3 linked regions of the Homo sapiens genome follow. The protein of the gene in region 3 interacts with the protein of the main gene of each other region in a pairwise test. Each region holds a gene or a part of one and is shown on either strand. Other genes may lie near its edges. The genes, in order: SULT4A1, CD1C and ATXN10.

Region 1 (3,751 bases), 1.8 Mb from region 3:
CATGTGCTCAAGATAGCAGCCCATCGAACGCTCTGTTCTCCAACCAACACCCTCCACTGAGAGTCCCTACTCCAATCTTCCTCAGAAGAATGTCAGAGACCTGCCCTCAGGTGTCTGGAACTCCATACAGCTACAACAGCCAAGCCTACAGCTTTTCCTGAAACTGCCCGACTGCTGGTCCGGCGTGACCTTAGAGCCAGACACCTTCTAAACCACGCTGTGATTGCCTCAAATACAGTGGCAACAAGGAAATCCCAGGGCATGTTTACAGAACAGGAAAGCTGCTACCTCCTTTCCCTAAAAACCTCAGATGGGGTACTATACAATCTCCTACCTCAGGTCTGGAAACAGACCAGCCTAGCTTTAATTCCCAGGTCAGCCACTCACCAGCTGAGTGACCTTGGACCAGCCTCTTCCCCTCTCTGAGCCTCTGTGCCTAGACTGTAAAGTGGGAATGACCACCACTAGCTCACACAGCTGTTATTGTGAAAGTGACGTCAGCTAATGCTGGGAAATGTGAATGCCCCAGGTCCTGCCTCGGTGATGGAGGCAGCCCTGAAACAAGAGAATGTACAAGCAAGGCACTCCAGGCGGGGACTGGTCCCATCCCCCACCCGGAGCCCAGGCTGGAAAGGAGGGACGTTACGTTTCCACGCTGAAAGCCCTGACGCCCATGTTATCTCCCTTCCCAGGTGAACACCAGGACTTTGCACTCATCAAAGGTTGGGCAGGATTCAGGAACAGAGAGGTTGAGTGACCTGTCCAAGGTCACACAGCCAGCCAGGTAAAGGGAGAAGCAGGGATGGGTGGCGGCCCTGGGCCCATCCTCCTGCAGCGCCGGCCAAATAGGCTCCATCTCCACGGAAGGGGCCGCTCCCGAAGGTCTCTGACCTTGGTTTCCCCAGATGAGAACCAAGCCCCTTCCCACCCCCACCCCACCCCACCCCGCCCCGCAGGGATCCGAGCATCGGGAGAGCGGTGGGCACGGCAGGGGCGGAGGCCAAGGGCGACCACCCGGCCCAGCAGAAGCCCCGGGCGCGGGCGCGGCGTCTACGCGGCCGCGCTGCAGGGCTGGGGCATGGCGTGGCGGGCGCGGTCGGCGCGGGGCTCACCGGACTTGGGGTAGGTGACGATCCACACGTCGCTGGGCCGCACCGGGAAGTTGGCGATCTCCTCCATCTTCCCGCGGCAGAAGGGCGGCAGCCGCACGCCATGGAACTCGAAGTACTTGCTCTCGAACTCCCCCGGGGTGCTGGGGGTCTCGGCCTCGCTCTCCGCCATGCCGCCGCCGTCGCCGTCGCCGCCGCCGCCTCCCGGCTCGCAGCCCGCACGCGCCCGCGCCCGCGCCCGCGCCCGCGCCCCGCACACGCTCGCGCCCCACCGGCGCGCGGCGGCAGCTCCGCAGGCGTGACGTCATGGCGCCGCCGACGCGCGGCGGAGGCTCCGCGGGTATGACGTCATGGCGCCGCCCGGCACGCGGCCGCGGCGCTGCACGGGCGTGACGTCATGGCGCCGCGGAGCCGCGTCCTCCCCGCCCCGCCCCCGGCCGGGGTCACCCACCCGCTGCCGGGGCTGACAGAGACCCTGGCCCGCGGTCTGCAGCCTCCTCAGTCGTGCGTGCGTTCATTCCGCTCATAGCTTCTGTCACTCAGCAAGCGCTCAACACAGACGCATGAGATACCCTGGCTGGAAGGCCCTGAAAGGTAGTCGTCCATTCAACACGTGCTTAGCGCGCTGCTGATCTGTGCCAGGCACTGGGCCAGGGCCCCGACACGCGTCAGGGTAGAAGCAAGCAGAAGCCTGGCCCTGTTGGAGCTTACATTGGTAAATAACCAAGATAATTTCAGGTAAATATTAGGTCCTATTAAAAATATGCGTCTTCGCCAGGCGCGGTGGATCACGCCTGTAATCTCAGCACTTTGAGAGGTCGAGCACGGGCGGATCTCCTGAGGTCAAGAGTTCGAGACCAACCTGGGTAAATGGTGAAACCGCATCTCTACAAACATACAAAAAAAAAAATTAGCAGTGAGCTGTGAGCTTGCACCACTGCACTCCAGTCTGGGCAACAGGACGAGATCTTCTAACAACAACAAAAAAAAAGTATGGGCCACCTAGTCCAGCCAAAAAAACAAAGTGCTTTTTTTTTGCTTTTTTTTTTTTTTTTTTTTTTTTGAGATGGAGTCTCGCTGTGTCGCCCAGGCTGGAGTGCAGGGGCGCGATCTCAGCTCACTGCAAGCTCCACCTCCCGGGTTTACGCCATTCTCCTGGCTCAGCCTCCCGAGTAGCTGGGACTACAGGCACATGCCACCATGCCTGGCTAATTTTTTGTATTTTTTGTTTGTTTGTTTTAGTAGAGACGGGGTTTCATCGTGTTAGCCAGGATGGTCTCAATCTCCTGACCTCGTGATCTGCCCACCTTGGCCTCCCAAAGTGCTGGGATTACAGGTGTGAACCACCTCGCCCAGCCAAAAAGTGCTTCTTAATATCCCATGAGTAGGGGAGGGGAGTGTTGGATTGCAAATTCCAGGACCCCAGATCTATGGAGAAAAATTACAAAAATATACATTTAGTAAGGCACTTCTTGTGCAAACTATAATTTGAGAGCAACCGAGTTCTAGAGATCTCAGTGCAACCCCTTGCCAGTCATGCACTCAACAGACATATATGAAGCACCTACTAACATGCCTGGGGAAGCACAAAGATGAAAACAACACAGCCTGCTCTCATTCTCTGCAGCCGAGCATCATCAGCTGTGTAAAGGAAAAGAATGATTCCTACCTCTAAGTAGTGTAGCCAGGAAGATGGAAGGAGTTTACACCAACAAGAATCTGGAGCAGAGTGGCTGGACGGGACCTATTCCTACTCTCTCCTTCTTACTGTAGAGTGAGACACGTGCATTCTGACACCAAAGACATACACATGGGCTGAGAAGCGCAGGCCATGTGTACATAGCAGACAGAGAGAGGAAACAGCAATTAATCCTGACTTGGGAAGCTTGTAGATGTCTTTCCAAAAAAGAAAGAGGACATTCCGAGCACCCAGCCTTTATTCAGAATAATTAGGCCAATGGCAAAAGGGCATCTAGCCAAAAGCTAGAGGGATTGAGTGAATGAATGAATATCCTGATGTTTCAGGTGAGGGTTCTCACTGTGGGAGAAGGAAAATGTAAGTGGGGAATGCGAGAAGGCAGGGAAGAACTCTATGGTATTGGATTGGAATTGGAGGTATTGACATGAGTTTATGATATTTTAAAATTCCTATTTCTTATATTTGCTGGAAAAGCCTTTAGGCAGTGATATCTCAATAATACTAGGCATACCCACTGCCCAGATCTTTGCTAAATACTTCCCTCACCAAATGAACCTGGGGTTTCTTGGAGAAAAAGCCAACTCCAGGGCAAGGAAAGTACAAGATGAGCCTAAAATGTCTTGTTGAGTCTTGAACTCCTGCAAGTTCAAAAATGTTGGGAATAGGTCAGAAGGACACAGGGTATAACATGAAAGTATTATCATAGGTCAAATCGGAAACAATTTGAGCATGTTAGACAAAAATGGGAAAAAACCCACGTACCCAACAGTAGAATAGATAAATTGCGATATATTCATACAATGGAATACAGTAATTTTTTTAAAAAAGGAATGTAACTGAGAAGAATGTCACAGTCAAAATGATGAACAAACTAAGTCAAGCACAAAAAATGGTATGTCATATGATTCTATTTATATACAGTCAAAACCAAGCAAAACTGATC
Region 2 (3,751 bases), on a different chromosome or scaffold from region 3:
CATGTTATTTTCAACTTGTTTGCTTCTGAATTCAAGAGGGCAAAAAGGATGATACTTACTGGGTTTTATAATATTATCCAATATAGCTAGGTTATGTTGCAGTTATAAATAAACTTTAGAACTTGGAGGCTTAACACAATGAAGTTTATTTCTCATGCAGTTAAACTGCATGTAGATCAGGCTGCTCTTCTCCATCTCATAGTCTTGCCATTTAGAAATTTGACTGCCAAGTTGGTACCACAGGGTAAGATGATCAGATGTGATATTTTCAGTGGTCAGGACTGGAGCTGGCTAATGCTTCCAACACCACACATTCCATTGCCCAGAACTCAGTCCATGACCTTAACCCAACTATTAGGAAATAGGACAGTTGCATCTTTCCTGTAGGAACATGGAAAAAAATGTGAATAAACACATAATGTGGTATCTACTATTGTTTTCTAAAACCACAAACCAAGTATTTGCCATTAACAGCACAAGATGAGCAAAGATAACACCTAGTGCTTATGAATGATTTGGGTAGGATTTGAACTGGGTATTGCTCTTAAAGATATTATAGTTCATAGAAATTGCCACATATCTGTGGCCATGATAGGAAGAGCTCATTGAGAATGACTTCTGGCCTCACTATTAACGTTGACAAACCTAAGAAATAGTGTATATATCAAAGTATCATGTTGTACACAGTAAATACATAGAATAAATATAAATTTAAAACAGAAACAATGTTACAAATGGGATTTTCCTTTTTAAGGCACGGTCTTGCTCTGTTACCCAGGCTGGAGTACAGTGACATGAACATGGCTCACTACAGCCCTGACTTTCAGGGCTCAAAAGATCTTCCTGCCTCTGCCTCCCATTTAGCTGGGACTACAGGCATGTGCCACCACATTTGGCCAACTTTTTAATTTTTTTATCGAGATGAGGTCTAACTTTGTTGCCCAGGCTGGTCTCAAACTCCTGGGCTCAAGTGATCTTCCCACCTTGGTCTCCCAAAGTGCTGGGATTACAGGCATGAGTCATTGTGCCTAGCACAAATTCATGCCCAGATTTTAAGTGACTGCTCCAATGCATTCAGTGAATAATTAATATGATTTAAGAAACACTATAATAATAAATGTATTTCCTGGATCTCAAAAAAACTGTGTTCATGTATTTACACATATTAACCAGCCAGGGTCACTGATAAGTCACTGAATACTTCATATAAACTACTTAAATCAAACATTGACAAATGCTGCCCTTTTTATACAATGTGTTTTGGTCAGATCACAAAACAACTTAAATTTGGATTTTTGTGGTCTCCCCATGTATGAGTCCTCTTGAAAAGCTGCATGTTCTGACTATCACAATCGTATACCATTCCACACTGTACAGAATTTTCAGTATTTAGTTGAGATGCATGCTGTTCTTCCAGGACTTCAAATTATGAACTTCCCAGGGGGTTAGTCAGTCAAAATGCTGCTCTAGAGAATATAGTTCTAAGTAGATTTGTATCTGGGATTCTATACATTGAAATTAAAATCACAATGCATTTTAATTTTTTGTTTAAACATCTGCAGTTTAAAACTCTTTGATAGAAGAGATTACATTGTTAACCTCTGTGTGTTTATATGCCTAGTAAGACACTGGTATCAACCATGTACTATGTAATTTTTTAGTGAATGACTATACAGATTAAATGCAGTAGAAGGGCTTCTTTATATTTGTTATGGTCCTATGCATTCTGAATGGCTGCAATTTAATCTCTAAGGATAATGTAGAGTGGACTGTAGTTTATATAATTGTGCAGGGAAATCTTGGAAGATGTAAAAAGCAACGTCTCCAATTTATAAAAGAATCAGTGAGAATGAGGAAATAAGAAAGATGGGTGAAAAGAGGTGAAATTGGAAAGAGAAAACTTTGAGGACATTCAAAAGGGGGAAAGAAAGAATGGAGTGATGAGAAGAGGGGACACTATGGAGAGTGGAGGCAAAGTTAAGTGGAGAAACTGGAAGAACTGTGATCTATTAAAACAAGCAGGAACTGAAAAAATGACATGGTTTCTCCTTTTTATCTTACAAATGACATGCAAAATCCAGAGGGACAAAATGACCTTTCTTTCAATGCCATACACCACTTTGTCTAAGGCAGTTGAGGAAGGGAAGTAGATATAATGGAGCTTAGTGGCAGAGCAGCTGGAATCCTGAGAGAAGAGAATAACTTTAGTTCAGAGCAGGTGGGGAAATGAGAGATTGAGTAGGAGGACCAAGGTTGAGGGAAGCAGATCTTCTTAGTTGCTGTCAGCGGCTGATGGGGAAGATTGTTGGTAGAAGGAAGTCAGAATATAGGTACAGAGGGATAAGTTTGCTAAGAACAGAGATCAGCAAACAGCTTTTCTGAGAGAAAGAAACATCTGCAAATGACATGCTGTTTCTGCAGTTTCTGCTGCTAGCTCTTCTTCTCCCAGGTGGTGACAATGCAGACGGTAAGAACATCGCTGTCAGCTGCAAGGTTACATGTATCTGGGTAGAGTGTGCTGGGCTTTCCCGAGATGGATCAATAGAGATGCCAGAATGCTTGCCATCTGAGCATACCTGTCTCCAGGTCCAGTTTACTCTTTTGGAGGATGGTGGCAGAGCATGGGCTCTGTGTAAGGAAAATGTTATAGCTAAAGTAGTCATTAATGTTTCTCTGTGGTAACTGGTTCAATTTCCATTTCCTCTCCATTTTCCGTTAAAACAATCAGGGCCCAGGAAAATGATGTGGTTTCTCCTTTTTATGTTACAAATGACACGCAAGGTCCAGAGGGATGAAGCAACCTTTCAATGCCACGCACCACTTTGTCTAAGGCAGTTGAGGAAGGGAAGTAGATAAGATGGAGCTTAGTGGGAGAGCAGCTAAAATCCTAAGGGAAGAGAGTAACTTTAGTTCAGAGCAGATGGGGAAATGAGAGATTGAGTAGGAGGCCTAAGGTTAAGGGAAGCAGATTGTCTTAGTTGCTGTCAGTGGCTGATGGGGAAGATTGTCTGTTGGTAGAAGGAAGTCAGAATATAGATGTAGAGGGATAAGTTTGCTAAGAACAGAGATCAGCAAATGGCTTTTCTGAGAGAAGGAAACAACTGCAAATGACATGCTGTTTCTGTAGTTTCCGCTGCTAGTTCTTCTCCTCCCCGGTGGTGACAATGCAGATAGTATGAACATCTCTGTCAGCTGCAAGGTTACATGTATCTGGGTTGAGCATGATGGGCTTTCCCAAGATGGATCAATGAAGAAGCCAGAATGGTTGCCATTTGAGCATACCTCTCTCCAGGTCCAGTTTACTCTTTTAGAGGATGGTGGCAGAGCATGGGGCTCTGTGTAAGGAAAATGGTATAGCTAAAGTAGTCATTAATGTTTCTCTGTGGTAACTGGTTCACCTTCCATTTTCTCTCCATTTTCCTTGCCTCTCTTTTTTTTTTTTTCCTTACACTACTTGCCCTTCTTCCACCAAAAGCATCCCAGGAACACGTCTCCTTCCATGTCATCCAGATCTTCTCATTTGTCAACCAATCCTGGGCACGAGGTCAGGGCTCAGGATGGCTGGACGAGTTGCAGACTCATGGCTGGGACAGTGAATCAGGCACAATAATTTTCCTGCATAACTGGTCCAAGGGCAACTTCAGCAATGAAGAGTTGTCAGACCTAGAGTTGTTATTTCGTTTCTACCTCTTTGGATTAACTCGGGAGATTCAAGACCATGCAAGTCAAGATTACTCGAAATGTAAGTTCA
Region 3 (3,751 bases):
AGCAGACAAAAAGCAAAAACAGTGAGGAAAGTAATTAAGAGATTCTTCTCTTTTGGTGGAATACATTATTTCTCTAGGATTCCATTTTATATTTGAAGAATCATAGACATAATGTAGTTGGTGGTCCTTCTGAGCTCTTCCATGCTACAAAACAAACTTCTGTCAGTGGTAGCTTGAGTAATAGAAGTGTCATGCAGTGGGAAGAGCAGTGGCTTTGGAACCATGGAGACCTGGATGTGAATCCTGGTTTAGTTTGTGAGGCTTCTTGTTTCTTTCCTTGAAAACGGGATGATGGTAGCCACTTTGACAGATTATTTTGAGGATCTGTAATATTATATGTGTAGCATAGTGGTTTATGCATAGTAAATGCCATTTATTTAGGACCTGTTATTAAAATATAACAAGGTTGTAAGTGACCAAGAATCCATTTGTGTTGAATCTCCTGTCTTATCAGAAACAAAAATTGCAGCTATTTCAGGAAGACAGTTCTAATTTTGGGGTTTCCGGAGAAGGGGATCTCAGGATCTCATTACAATTTTAGCAGCCCCCAAGTGAAAAGAAATTCTTACATCCCATTGTGGGAATTTTAAATATGTCCACAAATTCTTTGATACTCTGACCTTCTCAAGAGGAGGAGGTTAATTCTTTTCTCCTTGAGTGTGGGCTGAACTTAGTGACTTGCTCCTGAAGAGTAGAATATGGTAGAAGTGACAGTGTGCGACTTCTCAGACTAGGTCATAAAAAGCATCGTAGTTTCCTCTTTGCTAGCTCTTTCTTGAATCACCCACTCTGACAAAGCCAGCTGCCATGTCATGAGGACACTCAAGCATCCATATGCAGAGAGCTGTGTGGTGAGGAGCTGAGGCCTCCTTTGAACAGCCATGTGATGAACTACCTTGGAAGCAGGTCCTCTGAGCTCCAGTCACATCCTCAGCCACGTGTGCAACCTCATGAGACACCCTAAGCCTCTCAGATCTGTGTGAGATCATAAATGTTATTGTTTTAAAATGCTAAATTTTGGGCTAATTTGCTATGTAGCAATACATCATTAATACACCAGTCTTAATTCTCCATGCTGTGTATTAAATGCATTCTGTAACCCACTTCTTAAACAGTGTCTTGGTCACTAAAATAATTTAAACATATTGCTTATGGTCATATAATATCAGTATTGAGATATTCCTCAGCTGTTTCTTCTCTGTGTAAGATAATTCTTTTTTCTCACATTTGTTTTATACTTTTTGTTTAATGTAGATATCACCGTATTTCACATTTGTTTAACAAGTGATTTATCTTGCTGTGAGTCTTTGCAAGTCATGTTAAATTCTTTCTGAACAAGTAAGACAAACATTTAAAATTCTATTTTAGTTGCTCCTTTAATTATTTTTCTTTTTTTTTTCCGAGACAGGGCCTCACTTTGTCATCCAGGTTGGAGTGCATTTTTTCTAGAGAAGGGGGTCTCACTATGTTGCCCAGGCTGGTCTCGAACTCCTGGCCTCAAGTGATCCTCCTGCCTCGGCCTCCCAAAGTGTTGGGATTACAGGCATGAGCCACCGTACCTGGCTAGTTGCCTTTATGATGCATCCATGAGGCATCTCCAGACCCCACAAAGTGTAGAGCCAGGTGAGATGGGTTGTCATACTCCATCTGTGCTGTTCATTAAGTAGCCACTAGCTACATGTAGCTACTTAATTAATTGAAAATAAGTAAAATTAATGTTTCATTTCCTTAGTTGCATTAGCCATATTTTTTAATTTGTTTTTTTTTTTTTGAGACAGTTTCACTCTTGTTGCCCAGGTTGGAGTGCAGTGGTGTGATCTTGGCTCACTGCAACCTTCGCCTCCCGGGTTCAAGCGATTCACCTGCCTCAGCTTCCCGAGTAGTTGGAATTACAGGCATACGCCACCACACCTGGCTAATTTTGTATTTTTAATAGAGACGGGGTTTCTCCACGTTGGTCAGGTTGGTCTTGAACTCCCGACCTCAGGTGATCCGCCTGCCTTGGCCTCCCAAAGTGCTGGGATTACAGGCATGAGCCACCGTGCCCTGCCCTTTATTACTATTTTTTTAGAGACAGGGTCTCACTCTGTTGCCCAAGCTGGAGTGCAGTGGCACGATCATAGTTCACTGCATCCTCGACTTCCTGGGCTCAAGCAATCCTCCTGCCTCCTTCCCCAGTAGCTGGGACTACAGGTGTACACCACCATGCCCAGATAATTTTTTTGTTTATTTTTTGTAGAGATGGGGTCTCGCCATGTTGCCCAGGCTGGCATTAGCCATATTTTAAGTGCTCATTGGCCACATGTGATGTGACAGCACAGATATAGAATATTTCCATCATCACAGAAAGTTCTGGAAATAGTGCTCTTCTGTAGTAAGTTTTCTATAGGGGAGATTGTATTTTGACTCTTGAGTATTCTTGAAATAATGGAACATTTGGATGCTGCTTTCTATAAATTCATCTCATACTTAAACTGATACCTCATTGGTCTTCCACCTGATGAGCTTCTTGAATGAAGTGGGCACATCACATTCACTGTATGCCTGGCATCTAGCATAGAGTTGATAGTGGCAGATGCTTATCAGTTTCTTGTGGAGTTGCTGCTATTTCTATAACTTATTACTCATTGCACTTGCTTGGTCTTTTTCTTAGTCGTGTAGACAGTAATTTTTTTTTTCAGCTTCTATCAGTATAGCTCATTTTTTCTCTTCAATCTGCTTAGACAAAATGAGGTTTTCGTTGGTGTTTAATTTAAAAATTAAAAAAAAATTCAGGCCAAAAGGTCTTAAAAAAAAAAAAAAGAAAAGGCAAGTCCTGGACTTAGAGAAGTATTTAAAATATATATGATAAAGAAGTTGTTTCAGAATATATGAAGTACTCCTACCTACAACTCAATAAAAAAGACTCCTACAACTCAATTTAAAAATTGGGCAAAATCTGTGCTTTACAAAGAAAAATAAAGGCCAATAAGCGTATGATAAAGTGCTCCAAATCACTAGTTATTAGGGAAATGCAGTTAAAACTTCAGTGAGAGACTACTGCATGCCGTTTAGGATGGCTATTATCCAAAAAATGGAAAAGAACAAGTATCGTTGAGGATGTGGGGAAATGGGAACCCTTGTGTGTTGCTAGTGGACATGTAAAGTGGTGCTGCTACTATGGAAAATAATTTGGTGGGTCCTCAAAAAGCTAAACATGGAATATGACCAAGCAGTTTTACTCTTAGGTATGTGCCCGAAGAAAATGAAAAAGGACAAATTCTGTATGATTCTGCTTTTATGAAGTACCTAGAACAGACAAACTTGTAGAGACAGAAAGTAGATTAGAGGTTACTAGGATTTGGAGAGAGGGGAAATTGGGAGTTACTGCTTCATGTTTACAGAGTTTCTATTTGGGTGTTAAAAAAAATTTTGGAAGTAGAGGTGATAGTTGTACAACATTGTGAATATAATTAAAGCCATTGAACTGTAGACTTAAAATGAACAACATGGCAAATTTTATGTTATATATATGTATTTTACCACAGTTAAAAAAATTAATAATACAATGTACCAAAATCCATTTAATTGTACGCTTTAAGTGGGTGACTTTAGTGTGCCACGTGAACCCTATCTCAATAGTGCTGTTATAAACAAATCCATAGTAAGGTGCCTCTGCATCCCTATTAGAATGGCTATAATGAAAATGAGTGACACTGAATTTTGGTGGGCATGTGAAGCTATATATTTATGATTTTTAAAAAGTCACATT

The links.
Region 1: the proteins of ATXN10 (region 3) and SULT4A1 interact in binary tests that used the Homo sapiens proteins (3 or more experiments, as listed by UniProt).
Region 2: the proteins of ATXN10 (region 3) and CD1C interact in binary tests that used the Homo sapiens proteins (3 or more experiments, as listed by UniProt).

The regions. Positions count from the first base shown.
Region 1 is NC_000022.11:43,861,102-43,864,852, forward strand, and holds the start of SULT4A1 (sulfotransferase 4A1), read right to left. Parts: upstream 1,413-3,751; 5' UTR 1,282-1,412; coding exon 1,113-1,281; intron 1-1,112. UniProt on the Homo sapiens protein: Atypical sulfotransferase family member with very low affinity for 3'-phospho-5'-adenylyl sulfate (PAPS) and very low catalytic activity towards L-triiodothyronine, thyroxine, estrone, p-nitrophenol, 2-naphthylamine, and 2-beta-naphthol.
Region 2 is NC_000001.11:158,287,659-158,291,409, forward strand, and holds the start of CD1C (T-cell surface glycoprotein CD1c precursor), read left to right. Parts: upstream 1-2,264; 5' UTR 2,265-2,406; coding exon 2,407-2,467; intron 2,468-3,475; coding exon 3,476-3,742; intron 3,743-3,751. UniProt on the Homo sapiens protein: Antigen-presenting protein that binds self and non-self lipid and glycolipid antigens and presents them to T-cell receptors on natural killer T-cells.
Region 3 is NC_000022.11:45,674,728-45,678,478, forward strand, and holds part of ATXN10 (ataxin-10), read left to right. Parts: intron 1-3,751. UniProt on the Homo sapiens protein: May play a role in the regulation of cytokinesis. May play a role in signaling by stimulating protein glycosylation. Induces neuritogenesis by activating the Ras-MAP kinase pathway and is necessary for the survival of cerebellar neurons.